Linked DNA regions of Homo sapiens: region 1 is linked to region 2. The links come from fine-mapping of genetic effects on gene expression. Tissue or cell type: hippocampus. Region 2 holds a variant in brackets; the other region holds the start of a gene. All regions are shown on one strand. Distances are from middle to middle.

Region 1 (8,100 bases), 990 kb after region 2:
AAGAGGACACCCACCCATTGGAAGGTGAGCCAGGAGCCTACCCTGGATGCAGAGGAGAGCTGGGGAGTGCCCCTTTCTGGGACCCCTGTCTCCTTCCAGAAAGTACGAGACCCTCCCAGAAGGGGGCTACAGCGGTCAGCACTGCGCCCGCCAAACCTAAAGCTCATCTCAAGATCTTCCCGTGGCTCCGACCGACTCTGCAAATGGAGCTTAATGGGTAGCAGGGGGAAGGAATTGCTCTCAGCCGAAAAACATTAAGCTTTGTCAATTATCCCCCAAACCCGCTGGGTTTATAAATATCCCTTTTTATTTTTAGGGTTTTCCCTCCCGCTCGCCCCCATCCCGAACTCTCTCCACGCCCCGCTTCTTCCCCCACGCACACGGCGGCTGCACCGTCACAGAAAGCAGGTGAACGCGGGGCCACGGGGCGCTCGGGTAGAAATGCCACGTCGCACCACCAAGTCACACCGTCCCTGCCCGTCCCTCTCCGGCCATCCCACTAACTATTGTATTGGGGCCATGCAGCCGCTGGAATAATCAGCGAAGCCACAGGTCTCCCCATCTTGGCAAGTGGAGGTGTGCGCTGCCCTCAGACATCTGTGAACCGCTGTTCAACGCCAACCCCGAAGGCAGAAGGGGAAACCAAGTCACCTCCCAGAAAGACGTTTGATGAGCAGAGATAGATTTGCCTCCAGACTGGTACCAGGTCTGGGGAAACCCAGGCAGAGCCCCAGGCTCTATGCGACCCAAAGAAGAAAAAAATGGGTGCACAGTGATGGCTCCAGGTCTCCCCACCCAGATGCTACCACGAAATCCCTGGCATCCACGAAGCTTCCCCCTGTTCCATGGTGGAAATTGGGGGAAAATGGACTTGTGTCTCCAAGCAGGGTCCATGGACACTGGACGATGCCTGAAATCCCCTGGGAGGCAGGGAAAAAAGGCGCACTGAACGCTCAACCGGGGTATAAGGAGTGATTTTTTTTTCTCTGCTGGCAGCAGGCAGGAACCTGGGGTTTGAATGTCCCCTTCTCTGTCGCCACCTCACGCAGACTTCAGAGGCTCTCAAGGTTTCCTGGAGAGGGGGAAATCGTCCCCGGAGCTGACCTGCCAACCAGTAGCACCCTCCAGCGCCTCAGCCGGGCCACGCCAAAATGACCTGTCACCCATCTCCCGCGGGGAGTGGGGAGCGGGCCAGTCCACCGCCTCTTGGGACGGCATCTCTGGACGGCCACTGACAGTACCAGTCTCTGTCACCCCCTGGGGGGTTAGGGGCAATGTCATCGGCCAGGGTGGCAGAAATAGAAAAGTGCGTGAGCTCACCAGGCAGCCTGGGTCTCCTGCGACGTTTTGTTTGCCTGAGCCCAATTAGAACAACTCTCAGGATGATGGAGTATGGCGGGCGGTGGCCCCCAGGGGGCTGGGAGGCCTAGCCCCCATGCAGAAGTGCACCGTCATGATGAGGGTGTCCCCCGGGCCTGGGGAACAGGGCAGGACCCTGCTTCCCGGAGGGAAATAATGAAGACTCCGCCAGCCTGCCAGCCAGAAAGAGATGCCCCACGGAAGGCTTTGTGGAGGGCAGCGGGGGGGTAGGGGAGGGATGCCCAGGTGGGGACTCAGTCAGGCCCAAGCTGGGGGGCTGTGGGATTTGAGGGCGGGAAGCAGCCGCCCCCAGCCCCAGCTGCCTGCCTTCCACCGCCAAAATATCAGCTGGCAAAGAAAGAAGAGCAGAGGGACAGAAGGCAGGCGCGATTGGCAGGGGGAGGGGGGCACAAAGGAAGGGACCCTGGGAGGGGGAGGGGACTTATGCAAATGGCAGATTCGACCAAGTCCCTGGGCCATTAATAAACGCTCCAGCAGCTGCCGCTGGTATCGCAGGAGCAGAGGAGCGGGATGGCTTCCTTCTCCCGGGCGAAAGGCGGCAGAAAGAGGGAAGAAGGGCGCCCCAGACAAAGAGGCGCCGTCACCCTCTGCACCCCAAGGACAGCAGCGATAGGGGGCCACCCAGAGGAGGCCAGAATCCCAGCAGCCAAAGTCCGGGTGGTGGCGGACGGGAGCCCGGAGCGTGTGGGTCCCTGTCCTTGGGACCCTAGGGGTCTCTTCCTGCCTCCTCCGGCTTCTAGGTATCATCCCTGCTGCTCAGCCGGGACTCCGACACCTCGGACACCCGCTTCACTAGCCGCGGCTGCCGGGATGTGTTTTTAGGGTCTCGGCCAGAGGCAGGAGGACCCCATGCTCAGAAGGGGGCTCCCCTAGATTGTGACGGGGGGGGACAGGGGAATCCCAGCTGAGCCCAGAAGGGGGAGGCAAGGCACCCCCAATGAGGCTCTGGGAGGTTTGTTAATTTGGGGGAATGAGGTCCCAGGAGGTGGCTGGATTTGAGGAAGGGTTGCAGAGGAAGGGGCGTTCTTGGAAGCTGCATATTTAGGGAGACGAGAAGACGATTTGAGACTGGGGAAAGAGGGTCAACCGAAGAAGGAGGTCCCAGATTTGGGGCGGGGGGTGTGGCTGAAAAAAAGATTCCCAGTTTGTGGGAAAGGTTCCCTGATTTGAGGATTCTGGAGAGAAAGCGGCCGAAGGGGAGTTCCCCAATTTGGGAAGGGGGGGAATTGGTGGGAAATGTCCAGGATTTGTAGGGGGAGGTCCGAAGGGGAGGATCTTAATTTTAGGAGAGATTCCCATAAAGAGAGGTGAACTTGGCCGCAACCTGGCCGAACCCTCGCACCCACGGCGCGGGCACTCTAACCTGGGGGGCTCCCCTCAGGGCACGCCCCGCGCCCCCTTTAACCCAGTGCCGACGGCCCCGCCCCCGGTATGACGTCACCTCCCCTCCCCCCGCAGCCCCCGGGGGCTCCCGGGGCGTGCGGAACCCGCGGGGCTGGCGGTTCCAGGGGCGGCTTCCCCACTCTCGGGATCCCCACGGGGCCCCCAGCGCGGAGGGGAGACTGGGGTGCTGGGCGTGCGCGTCTGCCTGCCAGAGCCCCTGGGGCTGGGGGCTGAGGCTCGCCCCTGGGTGGGGAGGCTGGAAGGGGGCGCCGAGGCCGCAGAAGGGTGGGGCAATGCCCGAGTGCCGGAGGGGCGACCTCCCATAAGGCAACGACAGGGCCCGGAGTGTTCCAGGGGAGACGGCGTAGACTAGGGGGTCTCCAGGGGAGGGAGACCCGGAGAGGGAAGGCGGCGGGCGCAGCAGCCCTGGAGCCACCCCGCCTGGAGCCACCCGTCCCGGCTCCTCTCCGCTCCGGGGCGCCCGCATGCCCCCCATCCCCCGGCACAGCGCCCCCTGCCTCCAGGACCCGCCCGGGGACCCGGGCCGGGCGCCGCCGGGGCCGGCACCGGCTCCGCACACACGCGCGCCCCCCTCCGCGCCTCTGCCCCGCCCGCAGCCCGGGGTGGTGCAGCCGGCGGCGCTGGGCAGCTTCCAATGCCGCGCTCTGGGCGCTTCCAGCCCAGCCCCCTCCCACGCCGCGGACGAAGCCCCCCCAGCACCCCCTGCCGAGCGCCCCCAGCGCGGCCCCGGCCCTGTCCCTCGGGGCATTGTCCGGGCGCAGCTACCGGGGCGCAGCGGCTGGGCGTGCAACTGGCTGCAGCCGAGCATCCTCCGAGCACAATGGCCGTGCAGGCTTCCCCGGCACAAAGCCGGCGCGCTGCCCACTCGGCTGCCTCCGAGACCCCCCTTGGAGCGCCTGCATTTTTTTTTCCTCTAATCCATGATTTTATTTTTTTTTTTGGCTTTACCTGGAGGCTGGCTGGGCTGGGCTCCCCCGGCTCTGCCCCGCTTCACATCGTGGCTGTTGCATGGGATCCGAGCGGAGCCCGAGCGCCAGCGGCTCGCGGCGTGCGCGCGCCGGCCGGGCTGCCGGGCGGGCGGCGCGAGGACACTCACTGCGGCTCGCGCTCCCCTAGCTCCCGCTCGCGCGCCCCCCCAGCCGGTGACGTCATCCCTTCCGCCAGCGCCGCCGCCGCCGCCGCCGGGTCGGGGGCAGGGCCGGCCCGTGCGCGTCACTGCGCAGCCGCGCGGCCGCCACGCCCCCCGGCCAATGGGACGGCGCAGCGCGGTCACGTGGCTCCGGGGTGTTTAAAGGGCCGCGGGAGCACGTGGGGCGCGGGGCTTCGCGGGACACGTGGGCGGCTGGGGTGGTGGTGGTGGTGGCGGCTGCGGCGGCGGCGGGAAGGGCCCCTGGGGCTACTGTCCGTGCGGGAGCCCCAGCGTCCTGGGTGCAAAGGGCATGGCACTTTCTGTGCGCTGCCCTAAACTGTGCCACGGCTCCCCAGTACCCTTGGAATAAAATCCCGCCTCCTCTCTGCAGCTCGCCGTTTCACATTAGCGCCCACTACCCTGTCCCCTCCCCCCCACCATGTCAATGATCCAGAAAAACCAGCTGCTCCTTCTTTGCTTTTTCAGAGATGGGGTCTGCCACCTGGGCCTCAGTACAGTGGTATGATCATAGCTCACTGCAGCTTCAAACTCCTGGGCTCAGGTGATCCTCCCGCCTCAGCCTCCTGAGTAGTTGGGCTCGGGTGATCCTCCCGCCTCAGCCAGCTTCTTACAGTTCCTCTAACTTGAGCATCCAAGAACTTCCCCTTCTCATCTTTCCAATTTCTGCTCAAATAAGCAGCGCCTGGGAGAAGCCCTCCCTGACAACAGCTACCAGCCACGCCCCACTCCACTCTATCCCATTATCCCGGTTTGTTGTTGTTGTTGTTGTTTGTTTGGTTTTGAGTCGGAGTCTCACTCTGTCGCCCAGGCTGGAATGCAGTGGCGTGATCGCGGCTCACTGTAACCTCCGCCTCCTGGATTCAAGCTATTCTCCTGTCTCAGCCTCCGGAGTAGCTGGAATTACAGGCGTGCTGTCACCACGCCTGGCTAATTTTTGTATTTTTGTTAGAGACAGTGTTTCACCATGTTGGCCAGGCTGGTCTTGAACTCCTGACCTCAGTGATCCGTCCACCTCGGCCTCCCAAAGTGCTGGGATTACAGGCGTGAGCCACCGCGCCTGGTCCCATTATCCCGTTTTTATTCTAGTTACACTACAGTGTGGCTCCAGAGATCCCTATTGTAGGTTGAACACATGAATGAATGGATGATGGAGCACTTCTTATAGAGTAAGCACTTTACACAGGTCTCACCTAATTACCATCCCCTGCTTCCCTGGAGTCAGGACGAGCCACAGTTGGAACCCAGCTAAAACACTGATTTGCTGTGTGAGGCCCGGAGCCTCACTTTCCCCATCTGTAGAATGGATTTGCCTCTGGATCTCAGCTCTCATCTGTAAAATGGGGCAAGGTAGCCCCTGCTCCTAAGGAGGGTGTGATGATGAATTGCTATAATGTGGCAGCCTGGCTGCCATTGGTGCCTGAAGATGGAATAATAAGAGAAAAGAGGCCGGGCCCGGTGACTCATGCCTGTAATCCCAGCACTTTGGGAAGCCAAGGTGGGCAGATCACTTGTCAGGAGTTCGAGACCAGGCTGGCCGACATGGCGAAACCCCATCTCTACTAAAAATACAAAAATTAGCCGAGCGTGGTGGCAGGTGCCTGTAGTCTCAGCTAGTTGGGAGGCTGAGGCAGGAGAAACTCTTGAACCCGGGAGGCGGAGGTTGCAGTGAACCAATATCACACCACTGCACACTCTAGCCTGGGCGACAGAGTGAGACTCTCAAAAATAAGGAAAAAAAACAGAGCGGAAGTAAATAAAAGGGGGATATTGACAAAGGTAAGGGGGTTGGAGGGCTCACAGCCACCAAGCAAGATTGCACATCAGTCCTTGTGTTTTGATCATGTCGAAAGCATTTATTTCCTCAAGGCACATATTTGGAGAAGGCCTGGTGCCCAACAGAGGAACTCAACTTTAGAATTGGTTTTTTTTTTCCTCCAAAATTGTTGATTCATTCATTCCAGGCCACAGATGCAGATAAACAAAAAGCATTAACCCGGGGAACAAAACGATAAGGCGGAAGTCATAAACAGGAGAAAAGAGAGGAGATAATGAATAATTTAACAAGGAACCTAATTTAAGCTTGGAGTTTCCCAGCGGCCAGTGCAGCAGCCACGTTTGCAGAGCCTACTTTGTTTTTCTTCCTGGTGGGGTGACCCTGATCTGACCGTTTACAATCTGGCCTCAGTTTTCTCATCCAAGCAATGGGAACACGATCCCATCTTGAAGGATCAAATGGGGTGGTCTGTGCACAAATGCTTAGCGTGGTTTCTCACGCACAGTGGGTGCTGAAGCCTTGGAGAATTGGTGGAGACACAGTAAAATGAGATGGCTGATCGTGGAGGGGCTGATCATGGCACGAACCCCAGCCCAGTGACCTGTTTGGGAGGTGACCTCAAACAAGTGGCCGCAACACTGTAAGCCTAGCTGTCCCCATCTAGAAAAGGGGGACAACCACTAGTACCTCTGAGGGATTTTGTGAGCAGTCAAAGAAAACAGATTAAATACATCAAAAACAGAATTAAAATACATTGTAGCAGCTGGGCGCGGTGGCTCATGCCAGTAATCCCAGCACTTTGAGAGGCCAGGGCGGGTGGATCACCTGAGGTCAGGAGTTCGAGACCAGCCTGGCCAACATGGCAAAACCCTGTCTCTGCTAAAAATACAAAAATTAGCCAGGTGTGATGGTGCATGCCTGTAGTCCCAGCTACTCATGAGGCTGAGGCAGGAGAATTGCTTGAACCTGGGAGGCAGAGGTTGCAGTGAGCTGAGATCACACCACTGCACTCCAGCTGGGCAACAGAGTGAGACTCCCTCTCAAACAAAAAATACGTTGGCCAGGTGCGGTGGCTCACGCCTGTAATCCCAGCACTTTGGGAAGCCAAGGCAGGTGGATTGCCTGAGCTCAGGAGTTTGAGACCAGCCTGGCTAACATGGTGAAACCCCATCTCTACTAAAAATACAGAAATTAGCTGGGCGTGGTGGCGCGTGCCTGTAGTCCCAGTTACTCAGAAGGCAGGAGAATCGCTTCTACCCGGGAGGCAGATGTTGTAAGTGAGCTGAGCGCCACTGCACTCCAGCCTGGCAACAGAGTGAGACTTTGTCTCAAAAAAAAAAAAAAATACATTCCAGCATGTGCTTGGGAAACCCATCTGTTCAGGCCATGCATCCGGCCCCGCTCCCAGGTTGTTTGAAGTGCTGTGGACAACAGAAGTAAACAAAACAGTCTTTAAAATCCCTGGAGTTGGCCAGGCACTTTGGCCCAGCACTTTAGGAGGCTGAGGCGGGAGGATGGCTTGAGCCCAGGTATTTGGGACTAGCCTGGGCAACATAGGGAGACCCCGTCTTTACAAAAAGTTTTAGAAGTTAGCTGGGCATGGTGGTACACATCTGTGATCCCAGCTACCTGGGAGGTTGAGGTAGGAGGATCGCTTGGATGTGAGAGTTTGAGGCTGCAGTGAACTCTAAGCACGCCACTGCACTCCAGCCTGGGCAACAGAGCAAAAATTCCTGGAGTCAACAGTGCTGGGAGGAGATAGGAAATATCTTATTTAGAGTAAAAGCTTAAGCTCTTCCCACAGCTCACCAAGCTCTGCATAACCTACCCCCTTCCCCGCCCTCTGTCACCCTCGCTCACTCTGCTCCCGCCACTCGGGCCTCCTTGCTGTGCCTCCAACACACCAGGTAAGGTCCTGCCACAGAGCCTTTGCACTGTCTGTTCCCTCTGACCAGGATGCTGTTCCTCCTGCTTTTCTCAAGGCCAATTGTTCCTCCTTGCTCTTCGAGTCTCTGGGAGACCCTCCCAGACCATCTCACTGAGGTGACCACATGATCATCTTTACTTCAGTATCAGATTATTTATCATGATTTGGAATGATTTTATATTTTGGCCGGTTTGTGTGTTTCCTGCGTGTCTCCCTACTCTAGCTGTGCCTCAGTTTGCCTGTCTGTAAATGGGGATAATAATAATCGTGGTCCCTGCCGGGCGTGGTGGCTCACGCCTATAATCCCAGCACTTTGGGAGGCCGAGGCGGGCGGATCAGGAGGTCAGGAGATCGAGACCATCCTAGCTAACATGGTGAAACCCCATCTCTACTAAAAATACAAAAAATTAGCGGGCGAGGTGGCAGGTGCCTGTAGTCCCAGCTACTCGGGAGGCTGAGGCAGGA
Region 2 (8,100 bases):
GTTGCTCGATCTCGGCTCACTGCAACCTCTGCCTCCCGGTTCAAGCGATTTTCTGCCTCAGCCTCCCGAGTAGCTGGGACTACAGGTATGCGCCACCACGCCTGGCTAATTTTTTTTTTTTGCAGTTTTAGTAGAGACGGGGTTTCACTATATTGGCCAGGCTGGTCTTGAACTCCTGACCTCGTGGTCCGCCTGCCTCAGCTCCCAAAGTGCTGGGATTATAGGCGTGAGCCACCATGCCCGGCCTTTTTTTTTTTTTTTTTTTTTTTTTGAGACAGAGTCTCGCGCTGTTGCCCAGGCTGGAATGCAGTAGCATGATCTCGGCTCACTGCAACCTCTGCCTCCCGGTTCAAGCAATTCTCCTGCCTTAGCCTCTTGAGTAGCTGGGATTACAGGCACCCGCCACCACGCCTGGCTAATTTTTATATTTTTAGTAGAGATGGGGTTTCACCATGTTGGCCAGGCTGGTCTCAAACTCCTGACCTCAGGTGATCCGCCCGCCTCAGCCTCCCAAAGTGCTGGGATTACAGGCGTGAACCACTGCACCCAGCCCTGTATTATTACTATTACTGTTGTCATTATTGTTTGATTTGTGAATGGTAGCACATTATTCCCCTTCTGAATGGGAGTTTCTGAATGGAGCAACTGCTGAGTGTTGCATCCTGGAGACACAGCAGTGATCAAGACAGACAGACCCTATCCCCGATCTTAGGGGTTTCTTGGTCATGGTGGGCGGGGTGCAGATATCTGCCAGGCAGCTTGGTGCAGGCTGATCAGGTTTGTGGGTGTGGACTCCCAGGCACTGAGGAGGCCCTGCAGCCGGCCTGAGAGGTGTTCCTGGAAGCCCTGTAAAGACATGCCTGAGGGAGCGTAGGTCTGGGGAGGACCCCCCGGGAGAGAGGGCATGGTGGGTGTTGGTCCTGGGCCCAGCCAGCTGACTGTCACTGCAGGGGAAGAAGTTCCTGGGCGACCTGCAGCCAGACGGAAGGATCATGTGGCAGGAGACCGGGCAGACCTTCAACTCACCCAGCGCCTGGGCCACCCACTGCAAGAAGCTGGTGAACCCTGCCAAGAAGTCGGGCTGTGGCTGGGCCTCTGTCAAGTACAAAGGCCAGAAACTGGACAAGTACAAGGCCACCTGGCTCCGGCTGCACCAGCTGCACACGCCTGCCACGGCTGCTGATGAGGTACGTGCTGCAGCCTCCTCCAGGAAGCCGCCCAGGTCACTGTGGAATGAGGGGTGCCCAGCCTGGCACAGCTCTCTCCGGAGGAGGTATTAGTAATATATACAAACACGGATGGAGCCCTTACCACGTGACATGCCTCCTCCATCCCTCCAGGGCTGGGGCGGAGAGAGGGGACATGGGAGCTTGGGCTTTGAGGGATGAGCAGGAGTTTGTCAGAGCAAGTTGAAGGGAAGAGCTTTCTAGAAGGATGGAATGGCATACGCAAAGTCATGTAGACAAGAAGAAAGACCTGCTGGTGTCATGGGTGGCTGAGGGGGCTGGAAATGATGGCAGGGACCAGAGGGGCACTGGGGGAACTTCAAATGCTATGATAATAGATGTTCCCTGAGTGTTCACCAGCCGGGTGAACTTGACCAAGGACCCTTTGTGTGCCTTAGTTTTTTTCTTTTTTTTTGAGACAGGGTCTCACTCTGTGGCCCAGGCTGGAGTGCAGTGCCCCCATCTTGGCTCACTACAGCCTTCACCTCCTGGGTTCAAGCGATCCTCCCACCTCAGCCTCCCTAGTAGCTGGACTACAGACGCATGCCACCACACCCGGCTAATTTTTGGATTTTTAGAAGAGATGAGGTTTCACCATGTTGCCTAGGCTGGTCTCAAACTCCTGGCCTCCAGCAATCCTCCCACCTGGACTTCCCAAAGTGTTGGGATTGCGGGCGTGAGCTACTGCACTGGCCGTTTTTTTTTTCTTATGTGAAATGGAGATGGTAGGCCAGGCACAGTGGCTCATGCCTGTAATCCCAGCATTTTGGGAGGCTGAAGCAGGCAGGTTCACGAGGTCAAGAGATCCAGACCAGCCTGGCCAACATGGTGAAACCCCGTCTCTACTAAAAAGACAAAAATTAGCCAGGCGTGGTGGTGCACGCCTGTAGTCCCAGCTACTCGGGAGGCTGAGGCAGGAGAATCACTTGAACCTGCAAGGCGGAGGTTGCAGTGAGCTGAGATCACACCACTGCATTCCAGCCTGGCAACAGATTGAGACTCCATTTCAAAACAACAACAACAAAACCCCAAAATGGAGATGGTACCAGTGCCCATGTGTGGAATCTGTAGGGCAGGCAGGAAACTGAGGCAGGAGCAGATGCTGTAGTCTTGTGGCAGAATCTTTTTTTTTTTTCTGTTTTTGCTGTTATCGCCTTCAACTGATTGGATGAGGCCCACCTGTAGTATCAAGAGTAATGTCCTTTCTTCTTTTCGTAGATATGTTTTTTTTTTTTTTCAAGACGGAGTCTTGCTCTGTCGCCCAGGCTGGAGTACAGTGGCACGATCTCAGCTCACTGCAAGCTCTGCCTCCCGGGTTCATGCCATTCTCCTGCCTCAGCCTCCCGAGTAGCTGGGACTACAGGCACCCACCACCACGCCCGGATAATTTTTGTATTTTTAGTAGAGACGGGGTTTCACCGTGTTAGCCAGGATGATCTCGATCTCCTGACCTCGTGATCCACCCACCTCGGCCTCCCAAAGTGCTGGGATTACAAGTGTGAGCCACCGCGCCCAGCTGCCTGTAGATATGTTTTCATAAACTTTTTTTTATGTACGAAGTTTATTGCATGAAGGAGTTAACACTAGTCCATGTTAAAAGCAGACCACAAATGGTTACGTTATACAAGCTGTGAGGTTTTTAAACTTGTGACAAAGGACAGAAAGGAAATTCTACTCATTGCAAGGAAATCCTCACTTAAGCTTCAGTGAGCCACAAGCACTTAAAACCCATGAACCTGCCCGACGCAGTGGCAAAAAAACCCTTGACCCTTCACATGATCCTCCTTAGTCAGTCCAGTGTCTACAAGGAACTGGCAAATGTTCTTGCACTGGTCACTCTGTAGCTGAATTACTTCTCCATATTGTGTTTTTTTTTGTTTTTTTTTTTTGAGACAGACTCTCGCTGTGTCTCCCAGGCTGGAATGCAATGCCACGATCTCTGCTCATTGCAACCTCTGCCTCCCGGGTTCAAATGATTCTCCTGCCTCAGTCTCGCGAGTAGCTGGGATTACAGGCGCCCACCACCACACCCGGCTAATTTTTATATTTTTAGTAGAGACGGGGTTTCACCACGTTGGCCAGGCTGGTCTCGAACTCCTGACATCAGGTGATCCGCCCGCCTCCGCCTCCCAAAATGCTGGGATTACAGGCGTGAGCCACCAAGCCCAGCTGACTTATCCATATTCTGGATGCTCAATTACAGTATCATTGCAGGCAGGCAAATTGCAAATTTCTTTTTTTTTTTTTTTTTTTTTTTTGAGACGGAGTCTCGCTCTGTCGCCCAGGCTGGAGCTCAGTGGCACAATCTAGGCTCACTGCAACCTCTGCCTCCCAGGTTCAAGCGATTCTCCTGCCTGAGCCTCTTGAGTAGCTGGGATTACAGGCACACACCACCACACCCGGCTAATTTTTGTATTTTTAGTAGAAATGGGGTTTCACCATGTTGGTCCGGCTGTTCTCAAACTCCTGACCTCGTGATCCACCCCCATCGGCCTCCCAAAGTGCTGAGATTATAGGCGTGAGCCATCGCGCCCGGCCTAAATTTCTTCTTAAACACCTTCACTAGTTTCTTTTTATCGTAATCATCACTGATCTCTTGCAGGACAGCAGTAAGCGTTTTCCTGCCATTTTTCTGTTGAATTCTTTTTTTTTTTTGAGATGGAGTCTCACTGTGTCGCCCAGGCTGGAATGCAGTGGTGCAATCTTGGCTCACTGCAAACTCTGCCTCCCGGATTCAAGCCATTCTCCTACCTCAGCCTCCAAGTAGCTGGAATTATAGGCGCCCACCACCAGGCCTGGCTAATTTTTTTATTTTTAGTGGAGACGGGGTTTCACCATTTTGGCCAGGCTGGTCTTGAACTCCTGACCTCGTGATCTACCTGCCTCAGCCTCCCAAAGTGCTGGGATTATAGGCGTGAGCCACCATGCCCGGCCTCTGTTGAATTCTTA[T/C]ATGGATACAGTCCTCAGTGCCAGCAGGAAGCAGGTCATCACTGTTACTTGCATCAGCAGAGGGGTTGAAAGAGTGGAGGTTCTGGATAGTGGACAAAAGATATAATTCTGTTTTTGAGATGGAGTCTCGCTCTGTTGTCCAGGCTGGAGTGCAGTGCTGTGATCTTGGCTCACTGCAACCTCCCGTTCCCGGGTTCACGCAATTCTTCTGCGTCAGCCTCCAGAGTAGCTGGGACTACAAGGGCGCGCCACCAAGCTCAGCTGATTTTTGTATTTTTGCATGTTTATTAGAGATGCGGTTTCACCATGTTGGTCAGGCTGGTCTCGAACTCCTGACCTCAAGTGATCCACTCGCTTCGGTATCCCAAAGTGCAGGGATTACAGGCATGAGCCACCGCAGCCAGTCACGATTCCTTTGCCTTGGTGGGAACTGCCTGTGGAAAGCAGTGGTGGCGGGAGAAGGCGAGTGGGAGGGATGGAGCGTCAGGAAGTGAGGGTGCTCAACGGGAGGCTGCCGAGTCCTCAGTGGCTCAGTGAGTGGGTCTATTTTTTTTTTTTGAGATGGAGTGTCGCTCTTGTTGCCCAGGCTGGAGCGCAATGGCGTGATCTTGGCTCACTGCAACCTCCGCCTCTTGGGTTCAGGCGATTCTCCTGCCTCAGCCTCCTGAGTAGCTGGGACTACAGATGCCCACTACCATGCCCAGTTAATTTTTGTATTTTTAGTAGAGATGGGGTTTCACCATGTTGGCCAGGCTAGTCTTGAACTCCTGACCTCAGGTGATCCGCCCACCTCTGCCTCCCAAAGTGCTGGGATTGCAGGCGTGAGCCAGCCATGGAGCCTGGTCAAGAGCAATGTCCTTTCTGAAAGTCACCTTACTGTAGATATGAATCACATGTAACAAATGCCATCGCAGTAATGCCTAGATCAGTGTTCCATTAAATTACCAGGCACTCTTGCCTAGCTAAGATGACACAGGAAACCATTCTTTCAGTATGTATTCAGTTAGTGGCCAACTGTGTGCAAGGCCTGTTTTAGGCACTGAATATAAAGCAGAGGGCAAAAAAAGTCAAAAATCCCTGCCTTTGGGTGGGAGTTGTGGGGGAAGAAGGTGGTTGGGGGGGCTTCACTGAGAAGGTGACATTTGAACGGAGAACTGAAGGTGGGGAGGGAGGGAGGGTGCCATGAGGACTTCTGAGAAACAGCCTCTGCAAAGGCCCTGGGGCACGACCGTGCCTGGTGTGTTGGAGGAACAGCGAGGAGCCTGTGTGGCTGGAGCCGAGTGAGTAAGGGAGAGAGAAGGAGGTGGGGAGGATGGGAAGGGGACAGGGCAGGTCATGCAGGGCTCTGTAGGTTATGGGGAGAACTTGGGCTTTGACCGGGAGGAAGGTGGGAGCCATGGAGTGTTGCAGGCAGAGGAAGGACAGGATCTGACTGAGGTGCTCACAGGCGTTCTCTGGTGGCTGCTGTGGGGACTAGACTGTCGGGGGTTAGGGTGGGATCCAGGGACCAGGGCAGAGGTGAGTGAGCTGGTCCAGGTGAGGGATGATGGAGTGGCCCAGGCCGACCATGGAGCAGGGAAGAAGTGGGCAGGTTCCAGGTATTTTTGGAAGTGTATCCGCCAGATTTGCTGATAGATCAGATGCTGGAGTCCTGAGCAAGTGGGTGGATCGAGCTGCCAAAATTGGGGGATGTGGGAAGGGCAGATCTGGGGGTTCAGTGGGGCCCAGCATGGCTGTGTTGAGTGTGACCCTGTGAGTCCCCCACATGGAGACATAGAGAGGCAGCTGGGCCCTGAGTCTGGAGCCGGGCGAGGCTTGGGCTGGAGACAGGACTGTGGGCAGTGTCAGGTGTAGACAGGATTTGGAGCCCTGAGAGGGGATGAGGCCACCTGGGAGGGGTGTGGAGGGAGGAGGCCTGAAAACCCAGCCTGGGGCCAGCAACAGCGAGAGGGGAGGTGAGAGGGAGCCAGGCGAGCGTGGGATCCGGGGGTTGTGTGAGGACCGTGTCCTGGTAGGTAGGAGGCTGTGCTGGGTCAGATGCTGCCGAGAAGGTGACGAGGACAGAAAGTGAGATGTGACCCAGAGAGGTCACCTCCACAAGGGCAGTTTAGGACAGAACTGGAGGAGAGGTTATTTTTAATTTGTATTTTTGTAGACAGAGTCTCGCTCCGTCACCCAGGCTGTAGTACAATGGTGTGATCTCAGTTCACTGCAGTCTCCGCCTCCCGGGTTCAAGTGATCCTCCTGCCTCAGCCTCCTGAGTAGCTGGGATTGCAGGTGTTCGCCACCATGCCTGGCTAATTTTTGTATTTTTAGTAGAGATGGGGTTTCACCATGTTGGCCAGGCTGGTCTCGAACTCCTGACCTCAAGTGGTCCACCGCCTCAGCCTCCCAAAGTGCTGGGATTGCAGGCGTGGGCCACTGTGCCCGACTGGGAGGAAAGGTTACTGAAAGACGTGAAAGCCACCTATGTATGGTGCTGGCTCGCTCAATGAACGGAGCATCTAGGTGTATGCTAAATGCTTTGTGCGTATGATTTCATTTCACCCTGATGCCATCCCCGTGGAGTTGGAGGTCATTGTGCCCTTTTACAGATAAGAATAGACTTGGCGGCCGGGCACGGTGGCTCACGCCTTTAATCCCAGCACTTTGGGTGGCCGAGATGGGCAAATCACAAGGTCAGACGATCGAGACCATCCTGGCTAACACGGTGAAACCCCATCTCTACTAAAAATACAAAAAATTAGCTGGGCGTGGTGGCACATGCCTATAATCCCAGCTACTCGGGAGGCTGAGGCAGGAAAATCACTTGAACCCGGGAGGTGGAGGTTGTAGTGAGCCGAGATCATGCCACTGCACTCCAGCCTCGGCGACAGAGTGAGACTCTGTCTCAAAAAAAAAAAAAAAAAAAGAATAGAGTTGGCTGGGCACGGTGGCTCACACCTGTAATGCCAACACTTTGGGAGGCTGAGGCAGGTGGGTCACTTGAGGTCAGGAGTTTGAGACCAGCCTGGCCAACATGGCAAAACCTCATCTATACTAAAAAGACAAAAATTAGCCAGGCATGGTGGTGGGCAACTGTACTCCCAGCTACTCAGGAGGCTGAGGCAAGAGAATGGCTTGAACCCGGAAGGCAGAGGTTGCAGTGAGCCAAGATCGTGCCACTGCGCTCCAGCCTGGGTGACAGAGTGAGACCGTGTCTCAAAGAAAAAAAAAAAGATAAAAGAATAGATAGAGTTCAGAGAGTTTAAACCCATTTATGCCTGAGGTTGCAATTCTTTGAATTTTTGCAATCAGACCTTGGCGATGACTTTGAGCAGTAGGATATAAATAGCTCCCATATGCTTAGCGTTCCAATAATGGAACCCTAGGCATAAATGGCAATGGTGCTCACCAAAGGTTGCGCAGGGCTTGTATTATAAAATGCGAGGTGAGCCGGGTGCGGTGGCTTACGCCTGTAATCCCAGCACTTTGGGAGGCCGAGGTGGGTGGATCACCTGAGGTCGGGAGTTTGAGACCAGCCTGACCAACATGGAGAAATCCCGTCTCTACTAAGAATACAAAATTAGCTGGATGTGGTGGTGCATGCCTGTAACCCCAGCTACTCAGGAGGCTGAGGCAGGAGAGTCACTTGAACCCAGGAGGCAGAAGTTGCAGTGAGCCGAAATCACACCACTGCACTCCAGACTGGGCGACAGAGAGAGACTCCGTCTCAAAAATAAATAAATAAAAAATAAATTACAAATAAATAAAAAAAAATGTGAGGTCTTAGCTTAAGGCCTTCTCTGCTCCCTCCCTCCCTCTAGTGGTCATGTGGGGCAATGGCACTTACGGCTTAGGCCAAAGGGCTGGGGTGGGATTTAGCAGGGAGCGGGGGGGCACCCAGCTGAGGGTCCCACCGCTGTCCCTGACCCCTAACCCCTGC

What was found. PIP is the estimated chance that this variant, and not a neighbour inherited with it, causes the effect.
Region 1: PTPRS starts here. The variant in region 2 is fine-mapped to the expression of PTPRS in hippocampus (GTEx, PIP 0.97).

What each region holds. Positions count from the first base shown.
Region 1 is chr19:5,336,932-5,345,031 of GRCh38, forward strand. It overlaps PTPRS (protein tyrosine phosphatase receptor type S), which reads right to left and starts at 3,881. Exons shown (of 38, transcript NM_002850.4): 1 at 3,733-3,881. LOC105372252 (a long non-coding RNA gene) reads left to right here. Exons shown (of 5, transcript XR_936279.3): 3 at 1-24; 4 at 317-408; 5 at 526-1,135. RefSeq lists an enhancer at 1,269-1,942 and a silencer at 3,809-4,088.
Region 2 is chr19:4,344,795-4,352,894 of GRCh38, forward strand. MPND (MPN domain containing) reads left to right here. Exons shown (of 13, transcript NM_001300862.2): 3 at 951-1,187. It also overlaps the pseudogene EIF1P6. Among named protein-coding and RNA genes, the nearest start is that of MPND, 5.3 kb to the left of the region's middle. RefSeq lists an enhancer at 5,514-6,015. The variant T/C (reference allele first, on the strand shown) is at 4,176.